3 linked regions of the Homo sapiens genome follow. The protein of the gene in region 2 purifies or fractionates together with the protein of the main gene of each other region. This does not show direct contact. Each region holds a gene or a part of one and is shown on either strand. Other genes may lie near its edges.

Region 1 (3,651 bases), on a different chromosome or scaffold from region 2:
GAGCCCAGGAGTTTAAGACTAGCTTGGCAAAATAGCGAGACCCTGTCTCAAAAAAAAAAAAAGAAAGAAAAAAAAAACCAAAACGGGGTTGTTGTAACATTGGGGGATTTAAAAAAAAAAGAAAAGAAAAAATGTAAAATGGGGAAGAAGTAGAAATGCCAGGGAAAATCTACATAATTAATTACATCACTTCAGTCTTACTTTCCTTCTAACTGAAGAATGCATTGCAAACTACTATAAGGTATTATTCCTAGAATATCATGATGATAGCCACAATTATAATGCAGTAAAATGATGAGTAAAAAGAACACAGAGGAGCATTTTGATAAATATGTGGTCCCAGTCTGCAGTAGAGATTGTAAAAAATTAAAAAACATAACTTTCCTCATTTTGCTTCATAAACACTTCGCAAGTGGTTTAGGTAATACAAAAGACAAAGAGTTACCACGGCACTGAAAAGAAATAATTAAATCAACCAACCTGGCAAATTCTTTTTTCTTTTTTCTTTTTTTTTTTTTCTGAGAAGGAGTTTCGCTCTTGTTGCCCAGGCTGGAGTGCAACGGCGCGATCTCGGCTCACCGCAACCTCTGCCTCCCAGGTTCAAGCAATTGTCCTGCCTCAGCCTCCCGAGTAGCTGGGATTACAGGCATGCACCACCATGCCCAGCTAATTTTGTATTTTTAGTAGTGACGGGGTTTCTCCATGTTGAGGCTGGTCTTGAACTCCTGACCTCATGTGATCCGCCCGCCTCAGCCTCACAAAGTGCTGGGATTACAGGCGTGAGCCACCGTGCCCGTCCTAACCTGGCAAATTCTTAACAATGTTCCATAATACTGGCACAATCTCCACTGGTTTTATAAGACAAGATGCCTAAATTGTTTGGAGGCTTAGATTTTTTTTTGGAAAAAAAAAATGACGTTACAGGGTTTTTTTTTTTTTCATTAAAGAAACTGTTCATTTAAGGAAATAAAGTGTATTTCCTCTCTGAAAGTGTAATAGTTCACTGAACACTTTAGTCTGGTAGCATACAGGTGACATGCGGCTGCTGGTAAGAATGAGCTCACACCAATAAAACTACAAGGGCACCATATCCAGGTAAACCCCAGTTAAAAGAACAGAGTAAAATGTTTGAGGAACTTAGTCAAGTTCACGTAAGTAAAATGTTGGACTTGAACTCTGGCAAGGCTACACTGAGAAGATCTGACAGCGTTAACAGCAAATATTTATTGACAGCTTACTACTCACAATTTTCATGTTTTCTTTCAAGAAACCTAGGAGGTAGATACTACTATTTTGCATGTTATGAAAATTGCTCATTGCCATCCAATATCTCTTCTCCTCTTTTTCCTTGTAATAGAACCCTGATCTCATTAGCGGCTGCAATGCAACCAGCTAAGACTACAACTCCCAAACTCCCTTGCAGCTTGATGTGTCCATGAGATTGTCTTAGCCATGAGACACACAGAGGAGGGTCGTGTGGAACTTTCAGGAAGGCTGTTTAAAGGGAGCTGACTCACAGCTGGAACACATGCCCTTTTGCTTCCACGCCTCCCCTTTCTCATCCAAGATGATGCTTGGTGCTCTAGCCATCACTTCCTGGCCTGCAGGGCCGGAGCTCCATGCTGGACAATCAACCGATCAGCCCTCCATTACTCACCTTGAAACTTTTTATATGAGAGAATAAACCTCTGCAGGTGTAAGCCACCCCTACATGCAGCCGAACCTGATCCTGATACACACAATTATATAGATGGGAAAAACATCAAGGTTAGAGAGGTTAAGTAATATGTTCAAAGTAACCCAGCAAGAAAGGAGCAAGGAGCAGAGTAGCCCAGGTCTGTTGACTCCATGGCCCACGCTCTCCACGAAGCTCCACAAAGGCAGCACCTTTGTCTGCTGTGCTTACTGACGTGTCTCTAGCACTAGCACAGTGCCTGGCACATCGCAGGTACACAACAGATCTCTCTTAAATACATGAATGACTTTGTTATACAGCCTCATTAGTATTTCAGATAGGAGTTTAAACACAGCCTCCATCACACTACATTCTTTCAGAAATTTAAACACATAGGAGAAAATGCATTATTTTGTCAATAAAACTAGGACATCAGTGAAATAAACATGGAAGACGGTATCTAATTGTAAAGCACTAAAATAGATTAAATCACATCAATTCTTGAAAAACAGTAAATAAACTATTTCTTACCGATAGTTACATCTCCTCTGATTTCACTTTCTACACATACAACTGCTCCAGGAGCAATCTTCACACTGTAGCAAGAAAAAGGTAACATTTACCAGGGGTAAGATTAAACATACTGTTGGAGGAGCTACCGTGACATTGTAATGAAAACAAGGTTTAAAAAATGATGGAAAAAAAGGCCAGGCGCAGTGGCTCACGCCTGTAATCCTAGCACTTTGGGAGGCCGAGGTGGGGGGATCACCTGAGGTCAGGAGTTCGACACCAGCCTTACCAACATGAAGAAACCCCATCTCTACTAAAAATACAAAACTAGCCAGGCGTGGTGGCGAGCACCTGTAATCCCAGCTACTTGGGAGGCTGAGGCAGGAGAATCACTTGAACTCGGGAGACAGAGTTTGCAGTGAGCCGAGATCGCGCCATTGCACTCAAGCATGGGCAACAAGAGTGAAACTCTGTCTCAGGAAAAAAAAAAAAAAAAAGATGGAAAAATGGAAAGTCAATGGTAAGAGGGTAAGGTTTTAATACATTATAAATTTTTCAATTGGTATATTGTCCATCATCCCAAATCACATGTGCTAAAACACTTGAGAAGAGTTTTGAATCTTTTCTTTTAATAGCAGCACGTTTCTAAACAACAAAAAGCTGAAAACAACCTAGATATTCATCAGTGGAAGATTAGTTAATAAATTATGGCACATTATGGACTATTACATGGCCATCAAAAAGAATGAATAATCTCTTGTCAAGATTTTGGAATGGCTGAGCACAGTGGCTCACACCTGTAATCCCAGCACTCTGGGAGGCCAAGGAAGGAGAACTGCTTAAGCCCAGGAATTCAAGACCAGCCTGGGCAACATAGTGAGACCTCATCTTTTTTTTTTGAGACAGAGTTTCACTCTTGTTGCCCAGGCTGGAGTGCAATGGCACCATCTCGGCTCACTGCAACCTCTGCCTCCCAGGTTCAAGCAACTCTCCTGCCTCAGCCTCCCTAGTAGCTGGGATTACAGGCATGTGCCACCACACCTGGCTAATTTTGTATTTTTAGTAGAGACGGGGTTTTTTCAGGTTGGTGAGGCTGGTCTCGAACTCCCGACCTCAGGTGATCCACCCACCTCAGCCTCCCAAAGTGCTGAGATTACAGGCATAAGCCACCGTGCCCGGCGACCTCATCTCTTAAAAAAAAAAATATGGAATGATCTCCAAGCTATATTGTTAAAAGTAAAAAAGAGTGAAGTGAGAAAATGGACAGTATGTAATATGCCATTATTTTTGTAAAGGTAGGAAGAAAAAATATACATTCAAACTATTTAACAACCAGCAAGGTAATACTAACTTAGAAATTTAAAATTTACAAATGTTTCTGTTTACTCTCATATATATATATACATACACATATATGAGAAACTTTTTACCAAGTAATATAAATTGTAGTACAAATTCTTCAAAAG
Region 2 (3,751 bases):
ATTATTATGTATTCTATGCATATAATAAAATATCACATGTACCCCATCAATATGTATTAATATTACATATCATTTAAATTTTTTAAAAAACAGAGGGGTCCTTGGAGAGGTAATTAGGTCATATGGCTCCACCCACATGAATAGGACTAGTGCTTTTATAACAGAAGCTTGAGGGACACTGTTTGCTTCTCCTGCCATGTGAGGACACAGCTAGAAGCCATTTTTGAAGCAGAGAGTAAGCCCCCACCTGACACCAAACCTGCTGGTGCTTTGATCTTGGACTTCCCATCCTCTAGAACTGTGAACAATGCATTTCTATTGTATATAAATTACCAAGTCTGAGGTATTTTGTTATAGCTGCCCAAACAGACTAAGACACTTGCTAAAGATTTGTTGCTAGCATTTGCATATCAGCATTTGCATAATGTTTGACTAATTGGCTTTTGGGATCCCTTCTAATCCTAAAATTTTATGTTTTAGAGTCATGTGAACAAAGGAGTATTAACCATGATTTGTTAAACAAGAAAGCCCAAAGATAAAATGGAATGAGCATAGGCCAATGTTTCAGTCCCTGAGAAATTCCTCTGATGGTTATTCATGAAAAGCAATGACAGGCCAGGCGCAGTGGCTCATGCCTATAATCCCAATACTTTGGGAGACTGAGGCGGGTAGATCACCTGAGGTCAGGAGTTCGAGACCAGCCTGGCCCACATGGTGAAACCCTGTTTCTACTAAAAAAAAATCCAAAAGTTAGCCAGGCATGAAGGCAGGTGCCTGTAATCCCAGCTACTTGGGAGGCTGAGGCAGGAGAATCACTTGAACCCAGGAGGCAGAGGTTGCAGTGAGCTGAGATCACGCCACTGCACTCCAGCCTGAGCAACAGAGCCAGACTCAGTCTCAAAAAAAAAAAAAAAACTTGCTCTAACCTCACACTCAGTAAAGCAATCAGCAAGCAGCCATCCAACCATTTGCTAAAATAACTTCATTAAAAAATTATTTATTGTCAGTGCATACATTCTGCAAATATATCCATCAAAACAGCACTGTTCTTCTCATTTATTGGGCGATTCAGAAGTTTTACTTTGAATTTCTTTGGTGTTAAGTAGAAATAGTCTGTTGCACTGCTAACAAGGTCATCGGACTCAAAAAACATGTAACAATTATCTAAATCACCATTGATACTTAAAACTCCAATTAGTATAAAAGCTAATTCATGCCCAAACATAACAAACAAGACTTTATCTTCTATGCCTACATCAGTTTTCCAAGTCAATATTTTTAGGCTATATAATCTTATTGAAGTACAAAATGCAGAGTTATATTTGAAAGATATACTTAACTGTATCTCCATCAGCAGGTATTTGTGTGGGCATAGCCATTGTTCTTTCTGCCATGCTACACTAAAAGAGCTGGAAATTTAAAAAAATAAACATTTTTAAAAATTTCTTACAAAGGCTATATTCTTACTATATAATTTAGATAATTAGGGGGCATAATATGGGTATTTTTGCAAGCTTTAGTTTTTAGTTCACACTATTCATCTGTTTTAAACTGTGGCTGTCTTGCTAGATGGGCTTCTACATGATGAATAATATGTAATATTCAACTTATAATGTAGAGTAATACATTTAACCATAAGCACACAAAAAGCATCTTAAAGTTAAACTCCCTTTGGAAATCAAGAGGATAAGAGCATTCTTCTTCTTTAAATGACTCCATGGTCGTAAGAAAGGAAAGTAGAAAATTTTGCTTTAAAAAATGGTTAAAAAAAAAACAAAACAAGACACTCACAAGCACTTAACTTTCCAGAGTAGCATACCAGAGGAGGCTTAGGCATTTGAATTTACCCATTGAAAGAGAATTGTGAAAGCAGACCTTAAAAAACCTAAACAAGTTCTTTAGACACTGAACTAAAATAATGATAATTCTCATTTATGAAGCATCTATTATACAGCTAGCATTGTGCTAAGGGTTTATGTGCTTTATTTACCTCTGTTAGTCCTCATAGTAGATCTGAGATGTATGTATTTTCATTGCCATATGCCAGGTGAAAAAATTCAGACTCAGAAAGATTAAATAACTTACTTTCCCAGGGATTCAGCTGTGCAGCAGACACAGGTCCGAACTGATTCCAAGCTGGTGTCCTTTCTACTGTCCCCAGTTGTGGACCAAATAAATATTCACTGTGTTTGTAACAGTTGGGAACAGGGAGGAGAGGTACAAGAGAGCGTGCTGTGCTCATCTCCAAGCAGAACTGCCTGAGAAGGCCATGCTACCCTACTTTTGAACACAGCACAGAGATACTAAGAATATGAGACATGTTTCAAAAGGAAATATTATATATTTATAAAGCAAGTATTTGAAATATTTGAGAAGCAAACAGAATCAAAGAATGGTTCTGTGCCATAATCTCTTCACTTGCTCTATCCTGAGGATTATTGCACTTTAGTATACAAACGTATATCATTTTCCCTAAAATTAAGCAATGTTTTCTGATATAGATAGAGTTCTGTTTTGTGGTGTGGTTTAATCTAGACCAGTATGTATGAAGGTTTTTAAAATTTATTTATTTATCAGAAACTTAATGGTGGACATTGCAGTAATTTTGAGCCTTTTTTTTTTTTTGCTCTACCTCCTGGGTTCACACCATTCTCCTGCCTCAGCCTCCCTAGTAGCTGGGACTACAGGCACCCGCCACCACGCCCAGCTAATTTTTTGTATTTTTAGTAAAGATGAGGTTTCACTGTGTTAGCCAGGATAGTCTCAATCTCCTGACCTTGTGATCCACCTGCCTCAGCCTCCCAAAGTGCTGGGATTACAGGTGTGAGCCACCGCACCTGGCCAGTAATTTCTAGCCTTTAATGGAAATCAGCAACAAACATTGTTGATTTAAGTCAACAATGTTTGGCCAGGCACAGTGGCTAACACCTATAATCCCAGCACTTTGGGAGGCCGAGGCAGGCGGATTACTTGAGGCCAAGAGTTTCAGACCAGACTGGCCAACATGGCAAAATCCCATCTCTACTAAAAATACAAAACTTAGCTGGGCATAGCGGTGCAGGCCTGTAATCCCAGCAACTCAGGAGGCTGAGGCACGAGAATTGCTTGAACCCAGAAGGTGGAGGTTGCAGTGAGCCAAGATCCCGCCACTGCATTCCAGCCTGGGAGACAGAACAAGACTCTGACTCAAAAAATAAATAACAATGTTTATTTAAATCAACAATAAATATTGTTTTTGAAATACTGTAGTAATTTGAAGTAAACTACTACAAAATTCAAGAGTCTCTATCTCTGTATAATGACTGAATTTTTGGCAAATCTGCCAAAAATTATTTGAGAACTAGAGATGCAACTTATCTTGTATTTAAAAGCCTAATTAAGTGTCTTAAACAAAGAGGGGTTTATTTCTTTCACATAAGTCTAGAGCAGAAGTTTTTCAAAGTACGATCACTGGGCCCTGAGGATTCCTGAGATTCTTTTGCGGGGGGCCTATGGGTTCAATTTTTTTCTAATAATACTAGGGTTTTTTGTTTTTTGTTTTTGTTTTGAGATAGGTTCTCACTCTGTCACCAAGGCTGGAGCGCAATGGCGCAGTCGCAACTCACTGTAGCCTCAACCTCCCAAACTCAAGCGATCCTCCACACCTCAGCCTCCCAAATAGCTGGGATTACAGGCACCTGCCATCATGCCCTGCTAATTTTTGTACTTTTTTGTAGAGACAGGGTTTTGCCATGTTGCCCAGGCTGATCTT
Region 3 (3,651 bases), about 18 Mb from region 2:
CCGCCTCCTGGGTTCACATCATTCTCCTGCCTCAGCCTCCCGGGTAGCTGGGACTACAGACGCGTGCAACCACGCCCAGCTAATTTTTTTGTATTTTTAGTAGAGATGGGGTTTCATCATGTTGACCAGGATGGTCTCAATCTCTTGACCTCGTGATCCGCCCACCTCAGCCTCCCAAAGTGCTGGGATTACAGGAAGGTTTTTTTTTTTTTCTTTTTGAGACACAGTCTTCCTCTGTTGCCCAGGCTGGAGTGCAGTGGTGCAATCTTGGCCCAATGTAACCTCTGCTCCTGGGTTCAAGTGATTCTCCTGCCTCAGCCTCCCTAGTAGCTGTGCCACCACACCCGGGTAATTTTTGTATTTTCAGTAGAGACAGCGTTTCACCATGTTGGCCAGGCTGGTCTCGAACTCCTGGCCTCAAGCAATCCGCCTGCTTCAGCCTCCCAAAGTGCTGGAATTACAGGTGTGAGCCACTGTGCCTGGCCTATTTTTTGTTTTCTTGAGACAGGGTCTCACTCCGTTGCCCAGGCTAGAAGGCAGTGGTATGATCATAGCTCACTGCAGCCTTGATCTCCTTGGCTCAAGTAAATCTCCCGCTTTGGCTTCCTGAGTAGCTGGGACCACAGGCATTAGGCACCACGCCACATGCCAGGCTAATTTAACTAGGTTAACTATGATGAGGTGATGGCTGGGGTCTGCCTGCCCTGAACCTGTGTTCATGTGTCACCTGCTTGTAGAAGGACTTTATAACCTATAATCTGGGCATATATAGGACCATTGACAGCAAAGAAATGGACTGAGGGAAGCAGACCCTGTGGGAGGCAGAACTATGATCCCCAAAGATGACTGCGTCCTGATCCCTGGGACTTGTATACGTCCCACCTTCCATCGGACTCTGCAGATGGGATTAAGTTGAGGGTCTTGAGATGGAGGGCTGCTTTTGGATTATCCAGGTGGGCCCAATGTCACCGTAAGGGTCCCTATCAGAAGGATGGAGGGCCATGGTGGCTCATGCCTGGAATCCCAGCACTTTGAAAGGTCAAGGCAGGAGGATCGCCTGAAGCCAGGAGTTTGAGACCAGCCTGGGCAACATAGTGATACCCCCGTCTCTATTAAAAATTTAAAAAATTGGCCAGGCGCGGTGGCTCACGCCTGTAATCCCAGCACTTTGGGAGGCCGAGACGGGCGGATCACGAGGTCAGGAGATCGACACCATCTTGGCTAACACGGTGAAACCCCGTTTCTACTAAAAATACAAAAAATTAGCCAGGCGTGTTGGCGGGCGCCTGTAGTCCCAGCTACTCGGGAGGCTGAGGCAGGAGAATGGCGTGAACCCAGGAGGCGGAGCTTGCAGTGAGCTGAGATCACGCCACTGCACTCTAGCCTGGGAGACACAGCGAGACTCTGTCTCAAAAAAAAATAAAAAATAAAAAATAAAAAAATTAGCTGGGTGTGGTGTTGCATGCCTGTGGTCCCAGCTATTCAGGAGGCTGGGGTGGGATGACAGTTTGAGCCCAGAAGGTTGAGGCTGCAGTGAGCTATGGTGGCACCACTGCACTCCAGCCTGAGTAACAGAGCGAGACCCTCTTTAAAAAAGAAAAAAAAAAGGAGGAAGGTTAGAGCCAGGGAAAGAGATGCGGGGATGGATGCAGAGATCAGAGAAGAGAAGATGCTTTGCAGCCAGCCCTGAAGACAGAGGAGGGGGCAGCAACAGGAGGAATGAGGAAGCCTCCACGAGCCAGAAAAGGTCAGGAAACAGGTGCCCCGGAGCCTGCAGAAGGAGCTCACCCTACCGGCGTCTTGATTTCAGCCCGGTGAGGCTGACGCTGGACTTCAGACTCCAGAACTGTATGATCATTTATTTAAGCCACTAAGTGTCTTCTATTTATTTATTTTTTGAGATGGAGTTTCGCTCGTCACCCAGGCTGGAGTGCAATGGCGCGATCTCGGCTCACTGCAACCTCTGCCTCCCAGGTTCAAGCGATTCTCCTGCCTCAGCTTCCCTAGTAGCTGGGATTACAGTACTACAGTACTGGGATTACACCCACCACCATGCCCAGCTAATTTTTGTATTTTTAGTAAAGAATGGGGGTTTCACCATGTTGGCTAGGCTGGTCTCCAACTACTGACCTCAGGTGATCCACTCACCTCAGCCTCCCAAAGTGCTGGGATTACAGGCGTGAGCCACCGTGCCTGGCTGCCACTAAGTGTGTTATAGGAGCAACAGGACCCACAGGGTAACTGAAGAGCCAAGGAGGCTGGGAGGGGCCAGGGGCTTGGGAGGTTACAGCTCTCCTGGGCTCCCCCATGGCTTCCCGTGAGGGCCATGATGGGCAGGGCTGAACCACTCACCGTTGATCATCTCAGGTGCCATCCAGTAGGGGTTGCCCACCACGGTGTAGCGCTTCTTGCGGTCTGGCTTCTTGAGGCTCCGCAGGCCCTCAGGCTGAGTCTTCTCGTCCACCATGAGACGCGCCAGCCCGAAGTCAGCCACCACCACATTCTTGTTCTGGGAAGGTGAAGCCGGGTCATGCTGGGACCCGATCCTAGTACTGCCCGCTTGGCCTGCCCCTCCCCAGGACCCCAAGCCAACCTGTAGACAGCCCAGAGAACATACCTCTGATACGCTGTATTGGCACAGGGTGGGGACCCCTTCCTTCCCCAAACCCATCCGCTCTTTGCAAATGGAGCTGCGGGAAGCACCTGAAGATAGCAGTGTGGCTTCCTCCCTCCCACCACACGCTGCACCCTCTGCCCCCTCCCCACCTGCTCCCCAGACCGTCGTGGCGGACCCACTGCTCCCTCCTGCAAGCGCTCCCTCCCACCTGCGGGGGCACTGATGCTGCTTTGTTTCGGAGAGAAGACAGGAATTCTTTTGTTTTTTTTTTCAGACGGAGTCTTGCTCTGTCACCCAGGCTGGAGCGCAGTGGCGCGATCTCGGCTCACTGCAACCTCCGCCTCCCAGGTTCAAGCGATTCTCCTGCCTCACCCTCCCGAGTAGCTGGGATTACAGGCGCCTGCCACCATGCCTGGCTAATTTTTGTATTTTTAGTAAAGACGGGTTTCACCATACTTGGCTAGGCAGGTTTCGAACTCCTGATCTCAGGTGATCCACCCACTGTGGCCTACCAAAGTGCTGGGATTACAGGTGTGAGCCACTGTGCCCATCAAGACAGGAATTTTGATTATAGACCCAGGTCCTGTGCTTGGCATGCCACCAGATTTACTATTTATTTAGGTTGATTGACTGATTGAGATAGGGTCTTGCTATGTTGCCCAGACTGGTCTTCAACTTCTGGCCTCAAGTGGTCCACCTGCCTCAGCCTTTCAAAGTGCTGGGATTACAGGAGTAAGCCACCATACCTGGCCCAATTTTATCTTTTTTTTTTTTTTTTTGAGTTGGAGTCTTGCTCTATTGCCCAGGTTGAAGTGCAGTGGCACGATCTCAGCTCACTGCAAGCTCTGCCTCCCAGGTTCACGCCATTCTCCTGCCTCAGCCTCCCAAGTAGCTGGGACTACAGGCGCCTGCCACCATGCCCAGCTAATTTTTTGTATTTTTAGTAGAGACGGGGTTTCACCGTGTTAGCCAGGATGGTCTCGATCTCCTGACCTCGTGATCCGCCCACGTCGGCCTCCCAAAGTGCTGGGATT

Evidence for each region.
Region 1: the proteins of SEPTIN14 (region 2) and DCTN6 purify together in Homo sapiens (affinity purification with mass spectrometry; one large-scale study listed by BioGRID and IntAct). This does not show direct contact.
Region 3: the proteins of SEPTIN14 (region 2) and LIMK1 purify together in Homo sapiens (affinity purification with mass spectrometry; one large-scale study listed by BioGRID and IntAct). This does not show direct contact.

What each region holds. Positions count from the first base shown.
Region 1 is NC_000008.11:30,162,731-30,166,381, reverse strand, and holds part of DCTN6 (dynactin subunit 6), read right to left. Parts: intron 2,272-3,651; coding exon 2,207-2,271; intron 1-2,206. UniProt on the Homo sapiens protein: Part of the dynactin complex that activates the molecular motor dynein for ultra-processive transport along microtubules.
Region 2 is NC_000007.14:55,860,603-55,864,353, forward strand, and holds the start of SEPTIN14 (septin-14), read right to left. Parts: upstream 2,151-3,751; 5' UTR 2,086-2,150; intron 1,410-2,085; 5' UTR 1,395-1,409; coding exon 1,341-1,394; intron 1-1,340. UniProt on the Homo sapiens protein: Filament-forming cytoskeletal GTPase. Involved in the migration of cortical neurons and the formation of neuron leading processes during embryonic development.
Region 3 is NC_000007.14:74,114,660-74,118,310, reverse strand, and holds part of LIMK1 (LIM domain kinase 1), read right to left. Parts: intron 2,510-3,651; coding exon 2,353-2,509; intron 1-2,352. UniProt on the Homo sapiens protein: Serine/threonine-protein kinase that plays an essential role in the regulation of actin filament dynamics. Acts downstream of several Rho family GTPase signal transduction pathways.